Homo sapiens: one gene and its partners. The protein of the gene in region 5 purifies or fractionates together with the protein of the main gene of each other region. This does not show direct contact. Each region holds a gene or a part of one and is shown on either strand. Other genes may lie near its edges.

Evidence for each region.
Region 1: the proteins of SLC13A1 (region 5) and LMTK2 purify together in Homo sapiens (affinity purification with mass spectrometry; one large-scale study listed by BioGRID and IntAct). This does not show direct contact.
Region 2: the proteins of SLC13A1 (region 5) and DAAM1 purify together in Homo sapiens (affinity purification with mass spectrometry; one large-scale study listed by BioGRID and IntAct). This does not show direct contact.
Region 3: the proteins of SLC13A1 (region 5) and ROBO1 purify together in Homo sapiens (affinity purification with mass spectrometry; one large-scale study listed by BioGRID and IntAct). This does not show direct contact.
Region 4: the proteins of SLC13A1 (region 5) and UBXN8 purify together in Homo sapiens (affinity purification with mass spectrometry; one large-scale study listed by BioGRID and IntAct). This does not show direct contact.
Region 6: the proteins of SLC13A1 (region 5) and PLXNA1 purify together in Homo sapiens (affinity purification with mass spectrometry; one large-scale study listed by BioGRID and IntAct). This does not show direct contact.
Region 7: the proteins of SLC13A1 (region 5) and PLXNA2 purify together in Homo sapiens (affinity purification with mass spectrometry; one large-scale study listed by BioGRID and IntAct). This does not show direct contact.

Annotation. Positions count from the first base shown.
Region 1 is NC_000007.14:98,204,362-98,207,861, reverse strand, and holds part of LMTK2 (serine/threonine-protein kinase LMTK2 precursor), read right to left. Parts: intron 2,399-3,500; coding exon 2,370-2,398; 3' UTR 1-2,369. UniProt on the Homo sapiens protein: Phosphorylates PPP1C, phosphorylase b and CFTR.
Region 2 is NC_000014.9:59,366,667-59,369,284, reverse strand, and holds part of DAAM1 (disheveled-associated activator of morphogenesis 1), read right to left. Parts: intron 1,857-2,618; coding exon 1,686-1,856; intron 636-1,685; coding exon 426-635; 3' UTR 1-425. UniProt on the Homo sapiens protein: Binds to disheveled (Dvl) and Rho, and mediates Wnt-induced Dvl-Rho complex formation. May play a role as a scaffolding protein to recruit Rho-GDP and Rho-GEF, thereby enhancing Rho-GTP formation. Can direct nucleation and elongation of new actin filaments.
Region 3 is NC_000003.12:78,634,499-78,637,998, forward strand, and holds part of ROBO1 (roundabout homolog 1 isoform a precursor), read right to left. Parts: intron 1,611-3,500; coding exon 1,275-1,610; intron 1-1,274. UniProt on the Homo sapiens protein: Receptor for SLIT1 and SLIT2 that mediates cellular responses to molecular guidance cues in cellular migration, including axonal navigation at the ventral midline of the neural tube and projection of axons to different regions during neuronal development.
Region 4 is NC_000008.11:30,757,664-30,761,163, reverse strand, and holds part of UBXN8 (UBX domain-containing protein 8), read right to left. Parts: intron 277-3,500; coding exon 235-276; intron 1-234. UniProt on the Homo sapiens protein: Involved in endoplasmic reticulum-associated degradation (ERAD) for misfolded lumenal proteins, possibly by tethering VCP to the endoplasmic reticulum membrane. May play a role in reproduction.
Region 5 is NC_000007.14:123,197,170-123,201,337, reverse strand, and holds the start of SLC13A1 (solute carrier family 13 member 1), read left to right. Parts: upstream 1-1,368; 5' UTR 1,369-1,391; coding exon 1,392-1,490; intron 1,491-4,168. UniProt on the Homo sapiens protein: Sodium:sulfate symporter that mediates sulfate reabsorption in the kidney and small intestine. Can also mediate the transport of selenate and thiosulfate.
Region 6 is NC_000003.12:127,017,615-127,021,114, reverse strand, and holds part of PLXNA1 (plexin-A1 precursor), read right to left. Parts: coding exon 3,451-3,500; intron 3,367-3,450; coding exon 3,223-3,366; intron 2,822-3,222; coding exon 2,587-2,821; intron 914-2,586; coding exon 771-913; intron 1-770. UniProt on the Homo sapiens protein: Coreceptor for SEMA3A, SEMA3C, SEMA3F and SEMA6D. Necessary for signaling by class 3 semaphorins and subsequent remodeling of the cytoskeleton. Plays a role in axon guidance, invasive growth and cell migration.
Region 7 is NC_000001.11:208,213,385-208,216,884, forward strand, and holds part of PLXNA2 (plexin-A2 precursor), read right to left. Parts: coding exon 3,351-3,500; intron 3,335-3,350; exon of another isoform or gene 3,251-3,334; intron 1-3,250. UniProt on the Homo sapiens protein: Coreceptor for SEMA3A and SEMA6A. Necessary for signaling by SEMA6A and class 3 semaphorins and subsequent remodeling of the cytoskeleton. Plays a role in axon guidance, invasive growth and cell migration.

The DNA of each region.
Region 1 (3,500 bases), about 25 Mb from region 5:
TCCGCCTCGACCCCCCAATGTGTTGGGATTGCAGGCGTGAGCCACCGCGCCCGGCCAAAATCTTAATCCTAGTGGAAAACTGACAGCCCCAAAAGGTTAATAAATGTACTCGAGGCTGACACTGTATAAGACGACGACAGATTCCATGATCTGTATGACTTTGGTCATTAAATCTGAACTCCTTAAACCTGCAATTGAAAAAGTAGTATAATCACGTCTCATTTCTCTTCAGCCAAGACTAATCTTAGATGTAAAAACTGAGAAAACTCAGGAAGTCCCCACAGCAAGAATTCAGAGTCATGACAATTTTGGCAAAATCATCTTCTAATGCCCTGTTAATTAAAAAAAAAAAAAAAATTCGCGCATCCCGAGACAGTGGTGCTCCCCACATAGCCCAGGTGGGCACCGCATCCACCCCATGCCTACACAGGAGGGGACTCTCTCCATCCTGAACTTCTTGCTTTGGAAAGTTATTGCTTAGTATAAAAAATGAGAGGAGTAGGGTGGAACTGGCAATGAAGGTCATTTGCTGCGCACTCTCTGGCAACGTCCGCCTGCATTTTGCACTAGGACTCAACTTCCTTCCGTGTACCCCAGGCGGCCCCTGCACGGGTCTGGAGAGCACCCCAGGTTGCGCTGGAGTCTGGAAACATATCAGCACCGGAAAATATGTTGGGTGAAGGGTGAGTATGAGGGGACTGCAGGCCCAAGGACCCCCGAAGGAACGGCTGCCTCCCCAGCACAGCACAGCCGCGCTGCACCAGCCACCGAGGACTTCCTTATGTCAGAGCAGAACTCAGGGAGGGAGGTGTGAGGTCGCCCATGACCACAGGGGCTCGTGACGATGTGACGAAGCTACACTGGGAGCACTCGGGCCCTTTCAAAGCCAGAAGAGAACCTGGGGCTTAATGCAGAACGGAGGGTCCGTGAGATGAGTCCCGGGCCATGCAGGACCACCCAAGGCCCCGACCCGAACTATGTGTCGGCTGCTGATGCTCTGCCGTCGGCCGTCGTCCCTTGTCCATCCCCCTTCACAGCTGCAGGATGTGGTGTTATCTCATCCCACATGGATAACCACAGACTGGCCAGGCCCAGCTGGACGTGACGTGGAGTGGCTCGGAGGAGAAGATTCGGCTGTGGAGGTTTTTTTAAAGCTCAAGTCCCCACCACCTGAAGTGTGCACACATCATCAAGTCGAACGGTCCCCCACGGCTGGTATGCTCTGCGGAGATGAGTCTGCCTGAGTTCCCCGGCTTCTTGAAGGAAGGACTGACAGGAACACGGAAGCTTCCCAGCAGCCTGGCCTCCGAAAACCAGGCAGAAGAGCTGCGCGGAGGGAAGCGGTGCGGTGCCCCGTGCAGGGTGCAGCTCTCTGGACCTGCCACGCCAGCACGTCCCCAGGGATGGGCCGGGTCCATCTGAGGTCTGCGGCCACAACCTGTTGGTTTTTACCAAAAGGGCTTTAAAAAATGGGATGTGGGGTGGGAGAATGACAAGGAGAGGCTGCAAGACCTCTCAGCTCCTCAGAGAGAAGCCTCATTTGCTGCGGCAAAGCCGCTTCATCAAGAAGAGACAAAAATGCATTCAAGTCCATCAACAAAACAGTGGTATTTTGGACTCAATGAAAATATTTCCTATATGAACATAAAACACTAACATTCAGAATCATTTATCATTTATGAAAGAGTACCATATGTACAATCCCAACAATCCTAGACACAGTAGAACACTCAAAATATTTAAGCTTCACAAGTACCATGCAGCGCAAACTATAAAACAGAAAAAAAATCAAACTAGTGGCTAGCATCGGCTTGACCTGCCTCATTCCCCTCGAATAACTGAAGATCCTGTACAACAATGGAGACTCTCGGAACATTTATCCACAGTGCAATTACAGAAAGCAGTTCGTGATTTCTCTAGAAATAATAAATATGGCTCACTGGTGACCATTCCCCTCACGTGTCCTCTGTGGTGCCCACACGTGCGCCGGGATGTGCAGGCGTGGACGCAGAGACGCCCCTGTGGAAAGCACACATGCGGTGCACACAGCTCCACACGCGCGCGCACATGGAGGCTGTGCCCCTGCCTCCCCCGACGGCCAGCGCATGAGCACTGCCTGGGAGGCCGCGGCCGCGGGTGCACGGGGCACTGAGGGACGCCGGCTCCTGGACACGGCCTCGCTCTGCACCTGGGCTCCCGAGGGCCCCGCCTTGAACGCAGCTAAGAGCCGTCTCCCTCTTCACCTCTGGATTCTTCCTCCCAATCTCATGTCAGCAAATGGCGAGTGGATGTCGCTGCTCGGGCTGAGGGCGCAGGGGCGCCGCTCCAGGGGAGCAGCCTCGGACCCGAGCGTGCGCGTTGGCAGCCACCTAGTCCTTTTCTCCGTCTTCGCTGCTTCCTGTTGAGGAGAGAGGAAGCGAGACGACAAAGCTGGGTTTTTAAAATGATCAGACAGGCATGGCGTGGATGGCATGTGCGCTGCACCACAGGAACGGAAGCGGGTGTTTTGAGCCCAGCACCGCCTGAGCCGCCCTTCCTGTCCTTTCCTTCGGAAGCAGCCCCTGCCTGACTCTCCCACATCTGCTAGGCTCAAATGCCCGCTGGGCGCTAAGGGTCAGGGTGCAGAAGAAGTCAGCTGGGATCCACACATCTGCCCCGACAGACTGGCAGATAGCAGGTGTTATCTAATCGGCACAAATGAAGCCTAGCGCCGAGGGAAATAAAGCCTCTTTGTATTCCATATTTATTATTTGATCTGTAAACTTCCAATCAAAAAATGAGCCTATTAACCTTTATCTTTCAATCTAGTGACGGGGAAAGAAGGCTCCCTATGTTCAGATACCTCGACTTCAAATGGCCCCTGCCCATTCACCCCACCCCGCCCTCGGGAGCCACACCAGGACCAAGACTCAGCAGCAAAACCAACATTCCAGGGGCAGCACCAGAGGGCATGTGGGCTGGTCCCAAGTCCAGGGGTCAAGTGCTCTTACGAGCCTGCTGAAGAGCAGGTTCTCTCTGGGAAAGGAGGAGACAGAGTGCGGAGGAGGGACTATGCAGCCACAGGAGAAAAAGAGGAGATGGCGCGCAGCCTGGGCGTTCCTGGGACCCAGAGCCCCTCTGCCTCAGCCTGGCCCCACAGGGTGGCCGGTAACGAGCCTGAGAGTGACCACAACAGGCAGGGGGCATGGCCCCGAGAGCACACTCAGGATGCTGGCAGTTTTATTTATTTATTTTAGAGGCAGGGTCTTGCTCTGTCACCCATGCTGGAGGGCAGTGGCACAATCATAGGTCACTGTAGCCTTGAACTCCTGGGCTCAAGCATTCCTCCCACCTCAGCCTCCTGAGTAGCTGAAGTGCAGGTGCACACCACCACATCCAGCTAATTTTTTAGTTTTTATTTTTTTTAGAGATGGGGTCTCACTATGTTGCCCAGGCTGGTCTCACACTCCCAGGCTCAACTGATCCTCCCACCTCAGCCTCCTGAGTAGCTGGGATTACAG
Region 2 (2,618 bases), on a different chromosome or scaffold from region 5:
TTGGAAACCATAAAATATTTTGCAAGCTTTTTTTGTTTGTTTGTTTGTTTCTTCTGTTTTGCCTTTGAATCTAGGGAATGTCTCTTATCTCTTTCAGGAGATAGTATTGTGCTTCTGAACAGTCATGGCGTTCGGGGAAAGAAAATGAGCCACACTCAATGTGAATGCATACACGAAAGGTTTTGGAGCACATACATTAACATAAATCTTTTTAACCATACGTATAGGTCTCCAGACAACACTCAGACATCTATATACATTTTTTAATATATACACACATACATTTACATACACACGTTCACACATTCACTCACAGATGAAGGAAAAAATTGCCACTGTTTGGATTGCAAGGCAGTGTAATGAAACGTTCTAGTCACTTTAGAGGGCTGCTAATGAGCTTTCTAAAAAAAAGTATTCATGGAAAATTAGAAATTAAGTTTTGTGATTGGTCTCTCTCTGCTGCTGTCAGTCATCTGGTTGGTAATACGTTTGCGATTCCGTTTCAATTTAGAAAGGTCTTTGTCAAACACTTCTCCTGAGCGTAAAGCTGAAACAAGGTCATCAAACTCTCCGCTTTCTTCACTATTCTCTTTAGCTTTTCTCATTTTACGTTCCCTTTCACGTTGTTCTTTGAGCTGCAAATAGAAAGAAATAACCTCTTTGAGACATGTCAAAATGTTGCATTTTGTTTGCAGTAGAGGTCAATTCCTTGAAATATGGTAATGCTCCAGACACCAAGCTATGCTCATCCTATAACCCCCTTTGGATATCACAAGAAAGGGGGAATTGGAACATGGGGTCTCCATTGCAGGAGCAATGGACAACAAAAAACAACCACTCCCTTGTGGTTAGACCCTCACCACCTAGATTCTAGGTAAACTGCATGATATTCTAGTTAAAATAAGAGCAATTGAGGCAATTTGTGTTTCTGCTAATGAAAATTAAAAAAAAGGTATCACTATTACATAGACCCCAAATAACTAAAGCAAATGGTCATCAGGCCATTTTCCTTATATCAAAGGCTTAGCTTGTGTCTACTGTGGAAGCCTGAAACCTGATACACAATAGTTACTGTTATTAAAAGCCAACTAATACATACACATTGTAGACAATTTGGATAATTCAGATAAAAGGAAGGTGGGGGAAACATCTTTAATTCTACTACTGTGAACTTTTTAAAGGTTTATCACACCACTATTATTTTCTATATGTATTAACACACCTTAAAAAACAAAACAGAAAAAGATTTCATGTAGAAATCTTTTTCTGTATCATTATTCTTTGAATACATGTCTTTCAAGGACTGCATAAATATTCCATTATATGGCTGTTATATCATTTAGAACTCATCCCCTTTTGGTAAACATTTAGGTTGTCTTTAGCTTGGTGCTATTATAAAGAATGCTGCCCTTTTTTGTGTAAATTTATGATTATTTCTTTAAAATAATTGCTAAGAAATGGAATTCCAGAGCAAAGGATGTGGATAGATTTTTTTTTTAAGGCTTTGAATATACACTGTTAAATAGCCCAAGAGAAACAACACCAATGTAAAGTCCCACAGCATTCTAGAGAGTACATTGAAGCCTTCCTTCCTGCCAGGTCAGAGTGCTCTCTAAATACCTTTGACTGGGCTGCAGTCATAGAACTTCTAGGAGGTGGAATTGGTCAATTAATCATCCTCTCACCTGAGCTTCCATGCGAGCTCGACGTTCTTCTTCCTCCTTTTTCTTTCTCATATTTTCGTTTTCTTGTTTGGCTTCTGACACAGCTTGAAGAAATTGATCAAAAATGCCAAAGAACTCATCTGGTTGTATTTTGCCAGCCTCTTCCCCAAAGTGCTTCACTGCTTTAGTAAACTAGGAAAAAGATGGTTTTAAGAAGTCAATGTTTCATGAGAATTCCACAATCAAATATAAATAACTTGAGAAAGACCAAAGCCCAGATTGAGTCAAACGTAAGTTTTGTTTGCTCATTTATTTTTATTTCTTTCTTTCTTTTGGAGATGGAGTTTCGCCATCACCCAGGCTGGAGTGCAGTGGCATGATCCCAGCTCACTGCAACCTCTGTCTCTCGGGTTCAAGCGATTCTCCAGCCTCAACCTCCCAAGTAGCTGGGATTACAGGCACAAACCACCATGCCTGGCTAATTTTTGTATTTTTAGTAGAGTCAGGATTTTGCCATGTTGGCCGGGCTGGTCTCAACTTCTGACCTCAGGTGATCTGCCCACCTTGGCCTCCCAAAGTGCTGGGATTACAGGTTTCAGCCACCACACCCGGCAGTTTTTTTTTGTTGTTTTGTTTTAAGAGATGGGGTCTTACATGTTGCCCAGGCTGGAATGCATATGTTATTAGTTTTTTTTTTTTTTAATAGATGGGGTCTTACATGTTACCCAGGTTGGAGTTTAGTGGCTATTCAGAGGTATGATCACAGCAAAATACAGCCAAAAACTCCTGGGCAATCCTTCCTCTTAAGCCTCACGAGTAGCTGGGACTATAGGCATGTGCCGCTGCACCCGGCTGAGTCAAATATAACTGATGGATTTTAGTGAGCCTATATTTATCTTCAGCTGCTGAACATGTCTATTAATCATTTCTAAAGTAAAAATTGTAATACTCCTC
Region 3 (3,500 bases), on a different chromosome or scaffold from region 5:
TGCATTCCAGGTTCTTTATTATGGTCTGACATACCAAATCTGCTTACAAGCAGTATAAACAATAAATCAGAGTTCTGAAATATTTGTGCGGAGGCTCTCAGGGCTTTCCGAAGTCCACAGTAAAACAATATACTATGAAGGAATAATGTGACAATAGTTTGAATCACCACTGCAAACTCCATGATTACAGAAACTGTCCTGTTCATCTTTGTCAGTTTTTGTTATGAACTTATGCAGGAGTCTCGATCCATATTTATTAAATTGGGTTATTATACCAATCAAGTACTTTCTTAAACTTGAGAAAAGCCTAGCTGACTTCATTCTCGAGTTAAAACATAATATTAACTTAAATGAAATTTTTAAGTTATATTTTTGTCATCTTCAACTGTGATAAATCGCATTTTCAAAGAAAATGTTCCCAACCCAAACCTAAAGAAAATGTCTATGTCTCCAATTATCTCCAGTGTATTCTTTACCTGGAATAGGTGGGGATGCATTGCCCCCATCTATTCACATTAGAGCAATCCTGGTTTTCCTAGAGGTATAACTTTGCAAATCATGATATTATAGCAGTAGCCTAAAGGACTACAAAGAAACCAAACACCTATCTTTTCCAACTCATACACATTACAATACAGAAACATTTCCTTCAGGCCACAGAATACTATTCTGCGGCTTCAAGTTAATACTAAACTCAATTTATTTTAGGTTCTATACGGACAGACTTCAATCAGGTCAACCAAGGAAATTTAGGTTCTAAAATTATACACTGTAGCAGTCTTAATAACCACACGAGGTGGGAGACATACAACAAATTGAACCACTTCTCCAGTTCAAGTTTAATTTAATTATTTTATTTCAGGTTGATATAAAAATGCCATTGGTTTATATAACCACATAGAAGCAATTATCTTCCATCCTCTAGTGGAAAGAATGGGATAGTCTATTTATTGAAAATGCGAGGTATTGTGACAGTTGTACATCTGCCTCATGAATAAAAGATTGTCCGTCCCAATCCCTCACCTGCTATTAAATTTAAATTAATCTCAAAACCATTTGAAAATACTTATATATTATTATAAAATAAATTTTCCAAGGTTATTGTTGTGCTAATTAACTCTTTGACACTGGAAATTTTGAAACCAAAGAAATAAGAAAATCTCAGCGACAGAAGAAAAGATTTTACTTGCTAGTCGCAGACAAGTTTCAACATCTAGTCGAGGTGCTGAGAGTATCATACAGAAACAGATGGGAATACATGCAAGCCTCTTCACCTTTGTTCAGCTTGTTTTGCTCCACGATGTTGTACTGAACTGGTGCCACTTCTTGTTTCTGCTGTCCCAGTGGTTTCCAGTGCTTCTCGCCAGAGTCCCCGCTGCCATTGTTCATGTTGTTGCTGAGGTTTGACTGGATGAGCTGAGTGGTGGCGTAAGGAGTAGGCTGCCCTGATGGATTGACAAAACGCCCATCCTTCAGATTTGGGCTATTGAAGGTTTTCATCTCATTGATTTTGTTACTAAGGTCCACATCACCATAAACAGTTGACTCAGGGAGCATCAGATTTGTTTGTTTGTTATCCAGTTGGTTGTTATAATTTGCTATACAATCAGCTATGTGCAATGGAGAGGAAAAGGAAAAAATCATTCTGCGTGGTTATTCCTTTTAAATTTCTTTTTACGTAGCTTTGCGAGTCATCAGAAAATCGTTATGTAAAGTACAAGTGGGCTTAAATAAGATCAATAAAAACGGCCAAATATCCACATGTGCTTTCTAAAGAAAATTAATAATTGAAAAAATAAAAGAGGGTACACAGAATTTGTAGAGACTAAATAAATTTGAATTTCTGATAGTGCTGAAGTAAACAATTCATCCAATTTAAAATAATTTTCATTTAATAACCTCATTAATAGGAATTCCACTAAAATAATATATACATGTATATCTTTATGTGTCAACTTTTTATTTTCTAGTCTTTGGTTACTGAATTATTTGAAGCTACTGGTTAGCTGCTGAAGCAACAGACAAAGCACATAAATGAAAAATCCAAAGGAAAAAACTATTCATAGATCAAAGAACTTGAGATTTTGGTATTTTATAAAATACCTACATTTAAAAGATATGGGAACAGGGGTAAAATGATAGTAAATGGTACTAAGGAGAATTCTATTAGTTCTTGTTGTAGTCCTGTTGGATAATCATTATCCGGAAAACATGCTATATAATTATTTTCTCATGGTTTCATAATGACAACCAAAGAAATATAAAATGACAATAATAATAATAACAAAAGGAATCATAGTAACCTGGGTAATTGAATCAAATAAGCCTGAAATAATACTTAAATATCTAATATCTCATTTCCACTCCAGTTTTCTCTCTATTGAAATATTTGGACATTAAATAACTGAATATACATACATAATATATACATTCATTTTATATATATATATATATATATATATATATATATATATGGCCTGCAGTTGAAAATATTAAAATGGTAGGAAGAACTGAAATCATATTTTTAAATTAAAATAGATTTTAAATAGAAAAATTAGTTAAATTACAATGGTAAAAATGTCATTATTTTATGCATGTTGTCCAAAAGTGGTACCAACATTAACAAGTCACCTGTAGCATTGGTTTTTAACTGGATATGTTTAAAAATTATAAATTAACATGTTTGTTACTAAAGATGTAAATGTGAATATAATCTTAAGAAAAATGTGTAATTTCTCTATCCTACTGAATTCAACTATTCTGCATTTCAACCATGAACCGTCAGGGAACAGAAATATTTGATTCATCTGGACTTTGTGATTCTTATTTCTAATTTCTAGTTTTGTTTAACAGTGGTTAAGAAATACTATAAAGATCATGTGGTTTTTGCATTCTCATTTTGTTTCGCCAATCTGTCTATATTTGTGTTATCCAACAGAACTTTGGAGATATTGGACATGGTCTACTCCACTTTGTCTGATACAGCAGCCACCAGTCACACGTGGCCACTGAGCACTAGAAATGTAGCTAGTGCAAAAGAGGGACTGAGTTTTAAACTATATTTTATTAAATTCAATGTAAATAGCCATCTGTTGCCAATGGCTACCATATTGGACAACACAGCTCTACCTATTAAATGGGTATCGCCATTTTTTCTCTCCTATAGGTCTCAACCCAGTTTTTCTTGTACTTATGATTACATGAGTATCTATCTGTCTAGACATTCAGAATATGGGCCTCTAGAGGACAGAGACTTGGTCACATGGATACGTCACATCCACGTCCAGTGGACACTCAGGATTCGCTTTAAGGGCAGACATGCAGACTGCTCTATGATTTGTTCTTTATAGTGCATAGCATCTTTACTTAAATCCAACTTCTCTCTCGCCTTTCCGTAATTCCACAGGTTATTTTACTTCTATCATCATAGAGATTCCATACAATAATTTTAATATTTCCTATATTGGCAATATTGGGTTTTTTTTTGGGGGGGGGAGGGG
Region 4 (3,500 bases), on a different chromosome or scaffold from region 5:
ACCCAGGAGGCTGAGGCGGGTGGATCACTTGAGCCCAGGAGTTCAAGGCCAGCCTAGGCAACATAGTGAGACCCTGTCTCTATGTTCTAAAAAAGACCTAGTTACAGTATAATCACATGAACACTTATGCTATCACTTCTTTCTAAACCCAAGTTTAGATAAGACATATTTAATGGATGTTAAGCAAAGAAAATAGAAAATAAGTTTAATTTTCGAAGAGAAAAATAGACTTACTTCTTCTGCTGTTTGAGAAGGTTCTTCAGGTAAATCAGGAATCTAAAGAAAAGTATTGGTAAGAGGAATGTAAACATGTTCAACAAGCAAAAGTGTCAATGAGAAGAGTTCCTCTCAATACAGAGTTTAGACACACATCTAAGCTTACTTATATCTTTTCTTCATACATCTATAAAGAGTTTATAATGAAAATAGTTCAATTAATAAACATTTTTGGGCAAGTGTGCTAAAAATTAATCATAAAAATAGGATTTGAGATAATAGCTCCCAATCTATACATACTTAAAGGATTTTGCTTCTATTATGTTCCAAAATATTACTAATATATAAAAATGCACTATGTAAAAAAGCAAGCCAGATGCAGTGGCTCATGTCCGTAATCCCAGCAACTCAGGAGGCTGAGGCAGGAAGATCACTTGAGCTCAGAAGTTCAAGGCCAACCATTGCAACAAAGCAAGACCCTGTCACTTTAAAAAAAAAAAAAAATATATATATATATATATATATATGATTGTGTATGCATATACACATACATACATATAAAAACAGGATAAATGTTAACATGTATCAGCTGGGCGCAGTGGCTCATGCCTGTAATCCCGACACACTGGGAGGCCGAGGCAGGTGGATCACTTGAGGTCAAGAGTTCATGATCAGCGTGGCTCACATGGTGAAACCCCGTCTCTACAAAAATACAAAAATTATCAGGCATGATGGCGGGTGCCCATAATCCCAGCTACTCGGGAGGCTGAGGCAGGAAAATCGCTTGGAACCCATGAAGCAGAGGTTGCAGTGAGCTGAGGTTGTGCCACTGCATTCTGGCCTGGGTGACAGAGCAAGCCTCCATCTTAAAAAAAAAAAAAAAGAAAAGAAAATTCAGTAAGACCCCAAAATTATTTTGCTTCAAACATATACATATTTTATTTTATTTTATTTTATTTTATTTTATTTTATTTTATTTATTTATTTTTCTGAGACGGAGTCTCACTCTGTCGCCCAGGCTGGAGTGCAGTGGCGCGATCTTGGCTCACTGCAAGCTCTGCCTCCTGGGTTCAGGCCATTCTCCTGTCTCAGCCTCCCAAGTAGCTAGGACTACAGGCGCCTGCCACCATGCCCCGCTAATTTTTTGTATTTTTTAGTAGAGATAGGGTTTCCCCGTGTTAGCCAAGATGGTCTCGACTTCCTGACCTTGTGATCCGCCTGCCTCAGCCTCCCAAAGTCCTGGGATTACAGGCGTGAGCCACCACACCCGGCCCATATACACATTTTAACATGAATATGAACTTTTTGTCACTCACACTCCTAGGTGACTGCCAGAAACCATTCACTTTGGTTGCTTTTGTCATTTACTCATGTTTCCCTATTTCCATTAATCTATTAAGAATCCAGATATTGGGCTGGGTGTGGTGTCTCACGCCTGTAATCCCAGAACTTTCGGGGGCTGAGGCAGGCAGATCACCTGAGGTCAGGAGTTTGAGACCAGCCTGGCCAACATGGTGATACCCCATCTCTACTAAAAATACAAAAATGAGCTAGGCGTGGTGGCGCACACCTGTAATCCTGCTACTCAGGAGGTTGAGGCATGAGAATCTCTTGAACCCAGGAGGCAGAGATTGCAGTGAGCCATGACTGTGCCACTGCACTCCAGCCTGGGTGACAGAGTGAGGCTCTGTCTCAAAAAAATAAAAATAAAATAATCCAGATATTTAGACCATTTTCTTTCATTAAGACATTTGTGGCCGGGCGTGGTGGCTCACGCCTGTAATCCCAGCACTTTGGGAGGCCGAGGAGGGCAGATCATGAGGTCAGGAGATCGAGACCATCCTGGCCAACACGATGGAACCCTGTCTCTACTAAAAATACAAAAAATTAGCCGGGCGTGGTGGCGGGCACCTGTAGTCCCAGCTACCCGGGAGGCTGAGGCAGGAGAATGGCGTGAAGCCGGGAGGAGGAGCTTGCAGTGAGCCGAGATCACGCCACTGCACTCCAGCCTGGGTGACAAAGCGAGACTCCGTCTCAAAAAAAAAAAAAAAAACAAAAAAAACAAACAAAAAAAACATTTGTTACCAATGACTTCATCTCCAGGAACTCTTTATTAATACCATAGAGTATATTTTATAACATTTAATCTAACCTTACCTGCATTTGCTAAATAACTCATTTGTTTTCCTTTGGTATCAAAAGCATATGTGACTGTCAAGTAAAATCTGCCATCAGCATAAGACAGTGTCATTAACAAAACACAAACATGAATTTTTAATCAGTCCGTTTAGTTCATATCGATCTTTTTCAAAGGTCAGTGATAGTTCAATAATCTGATTCCCCTGCTCAATCTCCACTATGGGACCAGGAAATCTCAGATTGAGAAGCAATATCTTAGAAACTATTTTCAGGGAATAGACAGCCTCCCAGCTTTCCCTAAGGGCCAGTAAAAACAGATTTCTTATTTCTAATCTTTTCCAGCTCCAATTGGAATTAACTTAGTTAAGGATTGAAGATTTGAATGAACAACATGTATAATAAACCTGGGCACTAATCCAAAGTGACTGATTGCTAATCTATTCCCTAGAAGGGCCAGTAAGGAAAATTATACACTCATGTTAATAACAGCTATTAGCCACTCACAAGATAGGGCTTGATAATGTTCTTAAGTTAATAGGAATGCTTCCCTTCGTAAGCATTATATTTTTCATTTTTACATAATCAAATTCCTTAAAAAGAATTGAGTATTTTCGGCTGGGCGCAGTGGCTCACGCCTGTAATCCCAGCACTTTGGGAGGCCAAGGCGGGCGGATCACGTGGTCAGGAGATTGAGACCATCCTGGCTAACATGGTGAAACCCCGTCTCTACTAAAAATACAAAAAAATTAGCTGGGTGGGGTGGTGGGCGCCTGTAGTCCCAGCTACTCGGGAGGCTGAGGCAGGAGAATGGTGAGAATGGTGTGAACCCAGGAGGCAGAGCCTGCAGTGAGCTGAGATTTCACCACTGTATTCCAGTCTGGGCGACAGAGTGAGACTCTGTCTCAAAAAAACAAAGAAAAAATATCAATTCTTTTTTTTTTTTTTTTTTGAGACGGAGTCTCACTCTGTCGCGCAGGCTGGAGTGCAGTGGCGCAATCTAGGCTCACTGCAACCTCCACCCCGCTGGGTTCAAGAGATTCTCCTGCTTCAGCCTCCTGAGTAGCTGGGATTACAGGCGCCTGCCACTGCACCTGGCTAATTTTTGTATTTTTAGTAGAGATGGGGTTTTACCATCTTAGCCAGGC
Region 5 (4,168 bases):
ATTGTTACCTATTTATTATCACTTACCATTTTATTACAATATCATTTGTAATTATCCTTTCATCTAAGAAATTTAAGATATAATAAGACTTTCTGGTTTGGAAACTTTTTTTCTGTTTACTATTCTGATTTTCCTGAATAACTGTCCATAATAGATGTTTAGGAATTTAAATTTTTTACAGGAAAAAAATGCTTTCTCATTTACATTAATATGGTGAGTACTGGTGAGAGAATTGTTTCTCTTGATGGAAAGAGAATGCAGAGTTATATTAGTATGAAGTTAGAAATAAGACCTAAATGCTAACTATAGATTACATAAGAGTAAGGTTATCTATGTCAAGAGATATTGACTATAAATTCTAGTAGGGCTGGGAATGTGTTTCATTTATATCTAAAGACAAGTAGTAGTTGCTAACTTGAGGTTTACTGGATCATCAATTTACAACACAACGTGAAAAAAACCAGGGTCCTTATCCCTGAAGATTTTCAAAATACATCCTCCATATCACTGTTGGAACAGTCTCCAACTTCCCATGTGCTCATGTGCACAAACCATACACACACACACATCACACACCACTTGAATGTCCCTAATCACTCATCTTTATGCAGATTCCCTGATAATTATGTAGTCTGTATCAGCACAACAGTATCAAATCAAGCCTTCAAAGGTCTTAAAATAGAGGGTTTATATAACACTTCATGGTTATTTTGGTTTTCTATCAAAAGAGACAATAGGGTCCAAGAAATACACAAAACTTTGCTTCTAACCAACAGGGACATTTGCTATAAATTTTGTAGAAGACCCTTGCAATACATTGTCCAAGAAGTCCGTTAAAAATCCATCTCTAAACAAAAAAGTTTCCCTTTCACTGTCATACACTGAAATTCCAACTATTAGTTGCTATTTCAATTTACACACTGAAAACATACTTCCTTAGAAAGGGCCATGGAGGCTGCCTGTGGAGACTCACTCATGGCACCATGACAATGTGGTAACTACTCCAGTTAGGGAGTCTGGAAGTCAGAGGACATCAAAAGGGTTGGAAGTGCCTCATTGTGAACAAACAACCAGCTTCATGGTTTTGCCTTCTCCTAGGCTTGTCCAGTCTGTATTTCAGTGAATGTGATCAAAGAAAGCAGGGAAAGAACAGTTTTTCCTTGAAAACCCAGAGGAGCAAATGGTCTTTGATTTCTCATGAAAAGTCTTGGGCCTATCTCTTCATGTTAATTGTGATAGTAAAACAATAAAAAATGAGATTTAATTTTAACTTGTGTTGGTCGGTCTAGGGCAGTGAGTGAAGGTGACAGGCTGGAAAAATATTAATCCAAGTTGGTTATTTAACATCTGCTTTATTTGGAGGACACTATTGAAGCCACCTGCTCAGGACAATGAAATTCTTCAGTTACATTCTGGTTTATCGCCGATTTCTCTTCGTGGTTTTCACTGTGTTGGTTTTACTACCTCTGCCCATCGTCCTCCACACCAAGGTGAGTGAACCTGGAGAACAGACTGGTGGATTTCCTGACTTATTTAATTGTCCTTTATTAAAACTGTTTGCTGTTTAACTGCCTGGCTCAGAGCTGAATGAATGTTGACCCTTCATACCTAAAGTCAGGATGGTTGTACATGATGTTTTGGCCATTTTCTCCCTTTTTAATAATTAACATTGGTTGATTCTTAGTATGATTAAACATAATTAAATAGAATATTCAATCAGAATTGTTCTCTGCCTATCAACTAGATGAGAGGAAGAACAAAAGAAGCACAACCTTTGAGATTTTGCAGTTCAAGTTGTCATTCTCCAGGGAGCATGCATGGCTAGTGCAATGCCTTCCCCTGAGAATAGGCAGCAAAGCAATTGCTGGGGACAGAGGTGGAAGAACAAGGGAAATCCTAGGTCCAGCACAGACTAATTTACTTCTCAGCTCTGTGGCTTTGTCACAGAACTTCCTGGAAATTTAGTTCCCTTGTAGGAAAAGAAGACATTGAAAGCTTAGAGTAATTTCCCTTGGTCAATCAGAAAATCTAATAAAGCATTTACCATGTTCTGATAATTCCAGGTTTTGTTTCATTGTGGTGTACTTGTAAGCATTTTTGTTTGCTTTTTAAGAGTAGTCAGGGCATTAAGTCCAGAACAATAAGCTCAAGCATGTTTAATTTCTTGGTAAAATGATTTGAATCAGCAAACATTTAATGAGCACCTTCTCTGTGCCAGGCACAAACGTCACTTGGTAGTAAGAGGACAGGCTTTGGAGCCAGATTCTCTGCTTCAGGTCCCAGATTTACCACTTACAAACTGTGTCACCTGGGCATGCTACTTAATGTCTCTGTGCTTCTGTTTTCTCATATGAAAGATGTGTATAGTAGCAGGCTTGTTGTGAGAATGAAATGAAGAAACACTCTTCAAACACTTATTTGGAGCAGTGCCTGGCACACAGTAAGTGTGCAGTGCCAGTCTCCTTGGGTGTGTTGACTCCACAGGTGGGGCAATTCCCAGCACTCCATTATGCACAGTCCCTCCTCTTAATGGGCAAGAACCCTGCTGATGCTCTCCTCTAACAAGTACTAATCGAGGTTACACCAGTCTGGGTTATAATAGAATCATATTAACTATAATATGGTGGTCCCTCCAGCCTCTGCCAGAAGCCTTTGCCAGTGATCCTGGGACCTCTGAAGGGAATTCATGTGAGCTAATAAAGTCCTTTTGGACACTGTCAAGGCCTATCCTACCTGCAAAGCTGGAGAAGGGACTGGCCCCTGCTGTGGCATCTGTGGGTTGTCTCCCACCAGGTGCAATCTTCTAGCTGCAGCATTCTTGGCTTATCTCTCCTTGTGCTGAGGTCTCACAGAGCTACATGGAGGGAAGGGAAAAACTCCCCACCCCTTTTGGTCCAAATTTCTAAGCCCTCAAATTCGTACAGAATTTGTAAATAATAATAATAACTAAAAGACCTTGTCAGCTGTTTTTGGCTTTGTTGGTTTTGTTTTTCAAATTCTGTGTGACTAACCCTTTCCCTCCCACCCTGCCACTCCCACCCCGGCTCCTTGTGAGGTCTCCTATATGAATCTCTGGCAGCCCCATCAGATGACAAATTCCAGCACAGAAATAGTGCTCTATTCTGAATTCTCACCCCATCTCCTTGCCAAGAACTTCATCTAAGACACATTATGATCTTCACTTTGCAACTCTCCTGGTCCCATGAGTCCTCTAGATTTGGCTGAATCCTATCATGACCATATCCTGCTTCATACCTGGAGCCCTGCTATATTTTAATATTTTTGAGTTAGTCTCAGCATACATTCTTACTTATGGCAGAGAAAGTAGGAAATTAAACTAGTCAAGACAAATTTAGGTCATTACCACATATCATCTGTGCTGCTCTTTTTACATATAAATGCATGACAATTTGATTATCCTCCATAATTTTCTGAGAAATGAATATAAACTCTTTGAAAAACAAAATGAGTAAATAAATCAAAAGCAATCATTTTAGTACATGATTCATTCACTGGGAAGTGTATTATTTTTAAGAAATGCAGCCACTGATTATTTTTTCCAAGGTGCTATGACAAAAGAACATTAGGTCCATGCAGGAACCAGGTGTCTGGCACCAAGTTGCATCTGGTGAGCTGGTTCCTCTTTCCTTTCCTCCTAATCAACTCATTTGTTAAAACTCAATTAATGTTAATGGAGGATTTATTCCTAGTATAATAACATGATATTATTTTTTGGCCACTTTAAACATATATTTAATCATTCAATAAACTGCTAATTAAACTGAAAGACTATTATTTTAACTTGCTTACAATGAAAGCAAATTATTTTTTTAAAGAATGTAGGCCTTTGGAGGGTATAAAATTTAAGGAGAAGTTTACTTTAACATAAATGCAAGTCAATTTACTGTTAACTTTTAGGTTACCAAACTGAAGAAGTCTATGCTTCTAAAGACACAATATTAGATTAATTAAAACATTCAATGGAAACAAAAATCCAAGTTTCTCTTTCAAAACCACAATTATAAAAAATAATTCCATGTGGGGCTATAATCTACAGGATGTAGAGCCAACAAACAATGAATTATTGACTGATTTCTTTCCTTCATTTTCCTGCTTGTTATTGAGTTGTTCAATAGACTGGCCTTAACTTATGTCTTAATTCCATCTA
Region 6 (3,500 bases), on a different chromosome or scaffold from region 5:
ACAAGGGACATGGGCTCCCCAACATCCAAGGCACACGGTTGGGGGGTGCCCTCAGCTGGAGAGTGTGACTGAGCTAACCTGCCGAGCCCCTGGCCGTGGCTCGCCAAGGACTGGCTCCTAGCCTGCCTGCCGCTGGGGGCCTTTTAGGGGTGTGGGAGCCAGCCCTCTTTTCCCTCGCCAGGCTCGCTGCCAAGGTCTACGGGGCAAAGCCCTACTCTCTGAGACCCTGGTGCTATGCCAGCCACATGCTCCCCTCCCAAACCGCCATAGCAGACTTCATCAGGCACCCGCACCTCCCAGCACACGGCCCCTGCCCAGCGAGGCTTCGCATCCAGAGCCACCCAGGAGACCAGGCCAGTGGAGCCGCAGGCGGGACCCCCAACAGAGGCAGGGCCCAAGGGGCAGCCACCGGGGAGGTGCCAGAAGCCCAGGCTGACAAGTGGTTTGCTGGGATGAGGCCTGGCATCCCACGGAGGCCCTGGGGCCAGAGCCTCCTCCTGCCCTCTGGAGGTACTTTATGGAGCAGAGCCGTGCTGGCCATTCCCCTGCCCCAACCCCAGGGCTCAGGGCTCCACTGTGCTTGCCTGGTCTTGGTTCTGCCTCCCAGCACCTGCTCCCCACTTGGCTGAGCCCAGAGCCCTGCAGGCCTGGACCCTCCCCCAGGCCACACAGGCTGCCCCATACCATCCATCAGCACCCAAGGAGCCTCAAAGGCAGAAGATAGCAGCTGCCTCTGAGTTCCTGTGACCCCCCGGAGCCAGTGGTCCTACCTCCATCTCCTTGAGCACAGGGTGGTCCTCGATCCCAGGAAAGAGCACCCGCATGGCATATGTCCGGTAGTCAAGGAAGGGGATGCCGGCACCGTCCAGGTCATTGGTCAGCTCGTGGATGTCTGTCTGCAGCTCTGCAAAGGCTGTGGCCAGATGCGGCGTCAGGGGCAGCATGCCCTGGTGGCCCCGCTCCATGCCCCAACCCTCCCACTCTTGGGGCCTACATCAAATCCTGGCTCTGACACTTACTGGTTTCGTGATCTTAAGGAAACTACTGTGCCTCTTCGTCCCCCAGCTACTACAGCCCTAGCACAGGGATAGTAACTCTCCTCTGCAAGGTTCCCACAGGATCAAGCAAGACAAGGGCAGAGAAAGCATCAGCACCAGGGGCAGGCTGGGCAGGGCCTCCTGCATCTCAGACACTGGCAGTTAAGCGTAGAGCAGCTTTGGAGTTCGGGCTCCTTCCACCCGCTGTGAGGTGGTGGAGTGCGGCCAGGGGTGAGGTCCCAGGGCTGCAGGCTGTCCCCAAGCCCCCACACCATTGCATGCACATCTCGGGCCTGGTGCACCCTCAACATGGCCCACCCTGCTCAGGGCCAGCTCTGCCTCTGTCAGGAACAAAGGCAGGCAGGCCCTGACAGAACATTCCAGAGCTGTGAGGTGTCAGTCCTGTGGCAGCCCGAGGATCAGGCTATCTGATCAGAAGCCAAAGGAGTGCCAGGCAGGCTCTGGGGGACATCTGACAGGTTTAATTAAGAGCTGGAGTCTTCGTCTCCTGGGCATCGCTGCCAGGCGTCTAGTTATCTGCACCTGGCTGGCCTGGAGCAGCCACCAGCCACTGCATCCACACACGCCAGCCTCGCCAGACAGCCAGCCTCAGCAGGCGGGAGCACAAGGGAGGTCCAGGCCACCTGCCTCCCACCTGGCCCCAACACACACCTGCCTCCAGTCCCACCAGGGCTGCCCAAGAGGTAGGGTGACCCTCAGCCCACCACAGGGCCACTTAGGTTTGTCTGGGACTGAGAGGGCTCCCAGGATGCAGAACTTTGCATTTTAAGACTGGCTGAGTCCTGTGCAAACAAAACACCCCATCCCAGTTGAGTCCCAGTGGAATTCATGACAACCCCATGCTGGACCACATGGCTAAGGTCCTACACTGCAGCAGGAACACTCCTAGTATCTGCCCCCTAGAGCCCTGAACATGTGTGAGTTACTATCTGCAAACGCTCAAAGTCTCGCCCGGCATGGAACAGATTTCTGCCACTCACACCTGCCCTGATCAGGAGCATGGTGTGGCATGACTCCCCCTATAGACATCTCAAGGACAAAGGTCAGCTCAGGCCAAGATCTCTATGTGCCCAGGGACTGCCAAAGCGCAAGGGCTCCCCATTGCTGCATGGTGGAAGCACCCCTCTCTGCTGCTCCGCTGGCACCAGCCAACCCACCACGACTCCCAGCACCCAGGGAAAGTAGGCACTGTCATTGTGCCCACTCTAGAGACGACAAGACTGAGCCACAGAAGGGTAAGTAGCCACCTTCAGCCTTATAGCCCAGCTGGGATACAAATGCAAACAGTCTGGCTTTGGGTTCTGTGTCGCAAGCAGCACCCCAAGGAGGTGGTACCTGCTGCAGGGCCAGGCCCTGGTCAGGCACCCGCCCACTGCCCTGGGACCAGCTCTGGCACAGCAAGGCTATCAGGAACATTGTAAACTGAGCTGAAGCAGGGTGGGGGCGGCGGTGGGAAGTAGGTGTGGGGACAGGCCAGGGCCTGGCTCGGAGGTGGCAGTTGCCCCAGTGAGCCCTGGCCCCAACAGACCTTCCTTGCATTCGAGGGCCACGCGGGACTCCAGGTTGTCCATCTGGAGCTGCAGCCGCTTGAGTGTGCGGTCAGCATCTCGTGACTTGCGCTTGTAGGCGATGAGCACAGCCACGATGACCAGCAGCAGGAGACCCCCGCCTCCGCCAATGCCCACAATGGCAGGCAGCGTCAGCAGGCTGTCCGAGTACACCTGCAGTGTCCCTGGCGAGAACTCGAAGCCACCTGCCCGCACCTGCCAGTGGGTGGAGGCCACTCAGGAGCTTCCCATGCTTTCCACAAAGCTTGGGAGCCCCTCCCGATGGGCAAGACCCACCCCCAACACCTGCCTGTGGGAAAGGTCCCACCGACAGGGGCACAGAGTGGTCACCAGGGTGGAGACACTGGGACCCAGGGCAGGCGCCTGGCCAGCCAGGGCACCACTGGCATGGCAAGGGCTCAGGGTGGGTAGGCAGTCTCGGGGGGCTCAAGGAGGTGGCAGGCTGAAGGCTACGGCAGGGCCTGCACTGGAGCCGGGCGCCCTCTGAGCTAGGGGTGAGTCTCGGGCAAGGTCAGAGCTGGGGCTGTGCTAGTGGGGCAGGGTCCACAGGTGGGGCATGGCTCTCCCAGCTCTGCACCCCCGGTGGACAGACGCACCGTGACCTTGTGCTGCCCAGTGAGGTTGGGCGCCTCGCACAGCAGTTGCGTCTCCGACACGGTGAGGGTACAGGGTGTGGAGCCGATGAGCACCGTGTAGTTGAGTCGGGAGTTGCCGGGTGCAGGTGGCAAGAGGTTCCGGCCCTGTAGGAGATGGGGGTGAGCCAGAGCCCAGGACGAGGGGCCTCTTCCCTGGCTTGGCCCAGCCTACGGGCAATGGTGACCCACCTTGAGGATGAGTGGGGAGCTGGGCTTCAGCTCCAGCAGGCCAGTGGGGC
Region 7 (3,500 bases), on a different chromosome or scaffold from region 5:
AAATCCCCGCTTTATCACTTATAGCTGTGGAGATCTGAGCAACTTACTTAGTCTTTGTGAGCCTTTGTTTTTTAATCTGTAAAATGGGGAAGATAACTCTTGCTTTATGGGGTCATTGTGAGGAGCAAGTGAGATAACACTTAAATTGCCAAGCTTAGCCTTTAGGACTAGCTGCTATTCAATGAGTGATAGCCCCCTTCTTCCTCTCTTTTCTGGGATCAGAGCTCAAATTTTTGATCTGAGATTTCCATGTTATTCCAGAGTCATGTTAAAATCAAGCTCTGGGACCACAGCTTCTTTCATTTATCCTTATTCCCCTCTAAGGCCACCAAAATATTTCTGGGTCCCTGGGTCTTAGTTCTTTGGAGTATCAGGGTCTTTAAGGGGCCATTCCTCTTGCAGCCCTTGCACCAGAAGGGTGTGGTGCTGAAGGGGTGGAGGCAAGGGGCTCTCCACTCTAAGGTCCTGGCCCCACTCACTGTCACCTCTCTCCCAGTGCCTTTGCTATCCTTTTGTAACTAGCCCAGGCTTGTCCCTCTGCTCTGGAGCAGAGAAGAGTGTCATCTTCCTCTTTCCTCTGGCTCAGAAGCAGGCAGGAATCAGCAGTTTCCTCCTGACAAGGCCCCCTCTGGGTTATGGGAACTAGGCTGGACTCTGCAAGCATTTAACCCTTACGGAGGGTTACATTTCCTCTCCACCTCTCCACATTGGTTACGGCCAGTGGCCATAAAATTTTGGCGTTAAAAAAAAAAAAACCAAAGACTATCTAGTCTAGCTTCCTCATTTTACAACAGTAAGATAACTAAGAAAATAGCTGGCTCTTTACTACTGTGATTAATATTAATAATCATAGCGGCCCATTTATTGAATGCTTATTATGTTCCAGGTATTGTGCTAAGCACTTTACATAAATTTTCCATTTGATCCTCATAATAACCATGAAAAGAAGACAATATTATCTCTATTTTAAAGACGAAAAATTTACAGCTCAGACCAGGTACATAACTTGCCCAAAGTCACACAAGGAGTAAGTGGTAGGACTGATTTTTAATCCCCATCTGGTTTACTTCAAAGCCTTAACCACGACTCTTCTACCACACCAAGCAAATGATGACAGGAATAGAAGCGTAGCCTTGGAATGATGTTTTCTTGCTTCAAGTACTGGTGCTTGGTCCCAACGGCAGGCACCTTCAATTTAGAGTACTCAGAAGGTAGCCGTATGGGCCCCTTGGTCTCATATATTTTTTTCTAGGTTGCAGATCCAGAGCCCTCAGCACTGTGTACAAGAAACCTACTTTTGCACTTCTCACACTCCCTGTTAACTCCCTGTGTAATAATAAACCTAACATTTCCAGGCATGGTGCTAATCTCTCCATGTATTATCTCATCTGATCATCCCATGAGCTAGGCATTATTATTTCCATCTCACAGATAAGAATGTAGAGATGCTAAGGTGCTTCTGAAGAAGGCAGGAAGAAACACAGATGGAATTTGAAGCCTGGCTTTTGTCTCAGAACCTCAAACTCTGAGCCACTACATTATGTTGCCAGCTGTCTCTAGCTCTCTCTCTCTTCCTCTCTCTCTCTCTCTTCCCCCTACTAGATTATAAGATCTGTGAGACTAGTGATCATGTCTTTTTTTTTTCTGAGACAGGGTCTCACTCTGTCACCCAGGCTGGAGTATAGTAGCACAATCTTGGCTCACTGCAACCTCCACCTCCCATGCTCAGGCCTCCAGAGTAGCTGGTACTACAGGTGTGCATCACCACACCCAGCTAATTTTTGGAATTTTTGTAGAGACGGAGTTTTGTCATGTTGCCCAGGCTGGTCTCGAACTCCTGAGCTCAAGCAATCTGCCTACCTTAGCCTGCCAAAGTGCTGGGAGTACAGGTGTGAGCCACCGCACCCAGCCGATCATGTCTTTTTATGTTTGCAACCCCAGTGCCTAGTACAGTGCCAGGCATTCAGAAGATCTTCAATACTACTTGTAAATGAATAGAGGGATGGGTAGATGGATGATGGTGGATGAATAAAGAGAGGGATGAATGGATAGATGGAGGGCTAGGTAGACAAATGGATGATGGATAGATAAAGATATGGAGACATAGATTAAGGGAGAAAAAAGAGGGATGAGTGGATAAAGAGATGGATGAAGGGATGGAGGAAGGGATGGAGGAAAGAATGAAGGGAAGGATCAGGGACAGATGAATGGAGGTTTAGGTAAATAGGTGAATAGATGGATGGATGGATGATGGATGGATGGATGGATGGAGAGATGCATGGAGGGAGAGAGCTAAGGAGGATGGAGGGATAGATGGATAGGAGAATAAAAGGAGGGAAGGAAAGGGGATGGATGAAAGGAGAGATGGGTGGATAAATGAATGGATGATTGGATGGTTGGATGAATGATGGAAGAAGAGTGGATCATGAATACTTTGATGGCAGCACCATGAGCCGCTGACAGGGCAGTGCTTGCCACTGATTTTCTTGTCTCTGCTTTCCTCAGGTCTGGATTCTGAGCTTTTCATCCTCTCCTCTTTTGCCTTTGCCCACACTCCTGATTCTTCTCCAGTTTTCCATCAGTTGGTCAAGCCAGACTCCCTTCCCTCTCCTCTGACTTAGATTTCTGATCTCCACTTGACCCCCTCACTGGGAACCACAGTGGCCTACAGCTCTGTGTGTACATGACCTGGTCCCCATTACTTCTGATGGACCCCATCACCTGCTGCTCTTTCTCTCACATACTCTGATCTGGCTGCAGTTGCCTCCTTACTGTTCCTCAGACACTCCAGGCATGCCCTGAATTCTTTGCACATTCTCCTCACCCTTTCTCTCTCTGGAATGCTTTCTCTGGACACTTGTGTGGCTCCCTTTCTTCCCATCCTCAGTTTTTGCTTAGACACCACTTTCTCAATGAGTCAGTCCTCTCAGCTACTGCCTCTCCCCCTTTCCTGTTTATTTTTCTCTATAGCCATTATCACCATTTGGCAAACTAACATGTATTATGTGTTCATTTGTCTCACCCAACTAGCGTGTAATCTCCATGAGGGCAGTGAGCTTTGTAGGGTTGTATGGTTCACAGCTGAAGCCTGCAGCATTTACAATAGCACCTGATGTGATGTAGGCACTCAATACATATATTTGAAATGACAACAAATCAACACACATATCTCAAGTATCTGGTGTACGTAAGACCCTGCGTTATTGGTTACCACCTGATAACCTGAGTCTGAAAACCTCTTTCATTTCAGGTCCATGGTGGTGTGGGAGCAGATGTGCCCCAGGGCATGGACAGGAAGGTTGGAACCTGTGTCATGGAGCAGGAGCAGAGCGAGGTGTGTGCCTCCTTACCGCCTTGGTGCACTGGACGTCCTTCCCCAGCAGCCAGTTGAGCTCCAGGTTGCCCTCGCCCTGGTAGCAGGACTGCAGGCGCTCCTTGATCTGCAAGTTGATGGCCCGGATAGGGAAGGCACACAGGGCAGAGTCATCGGGCGGGTGGTG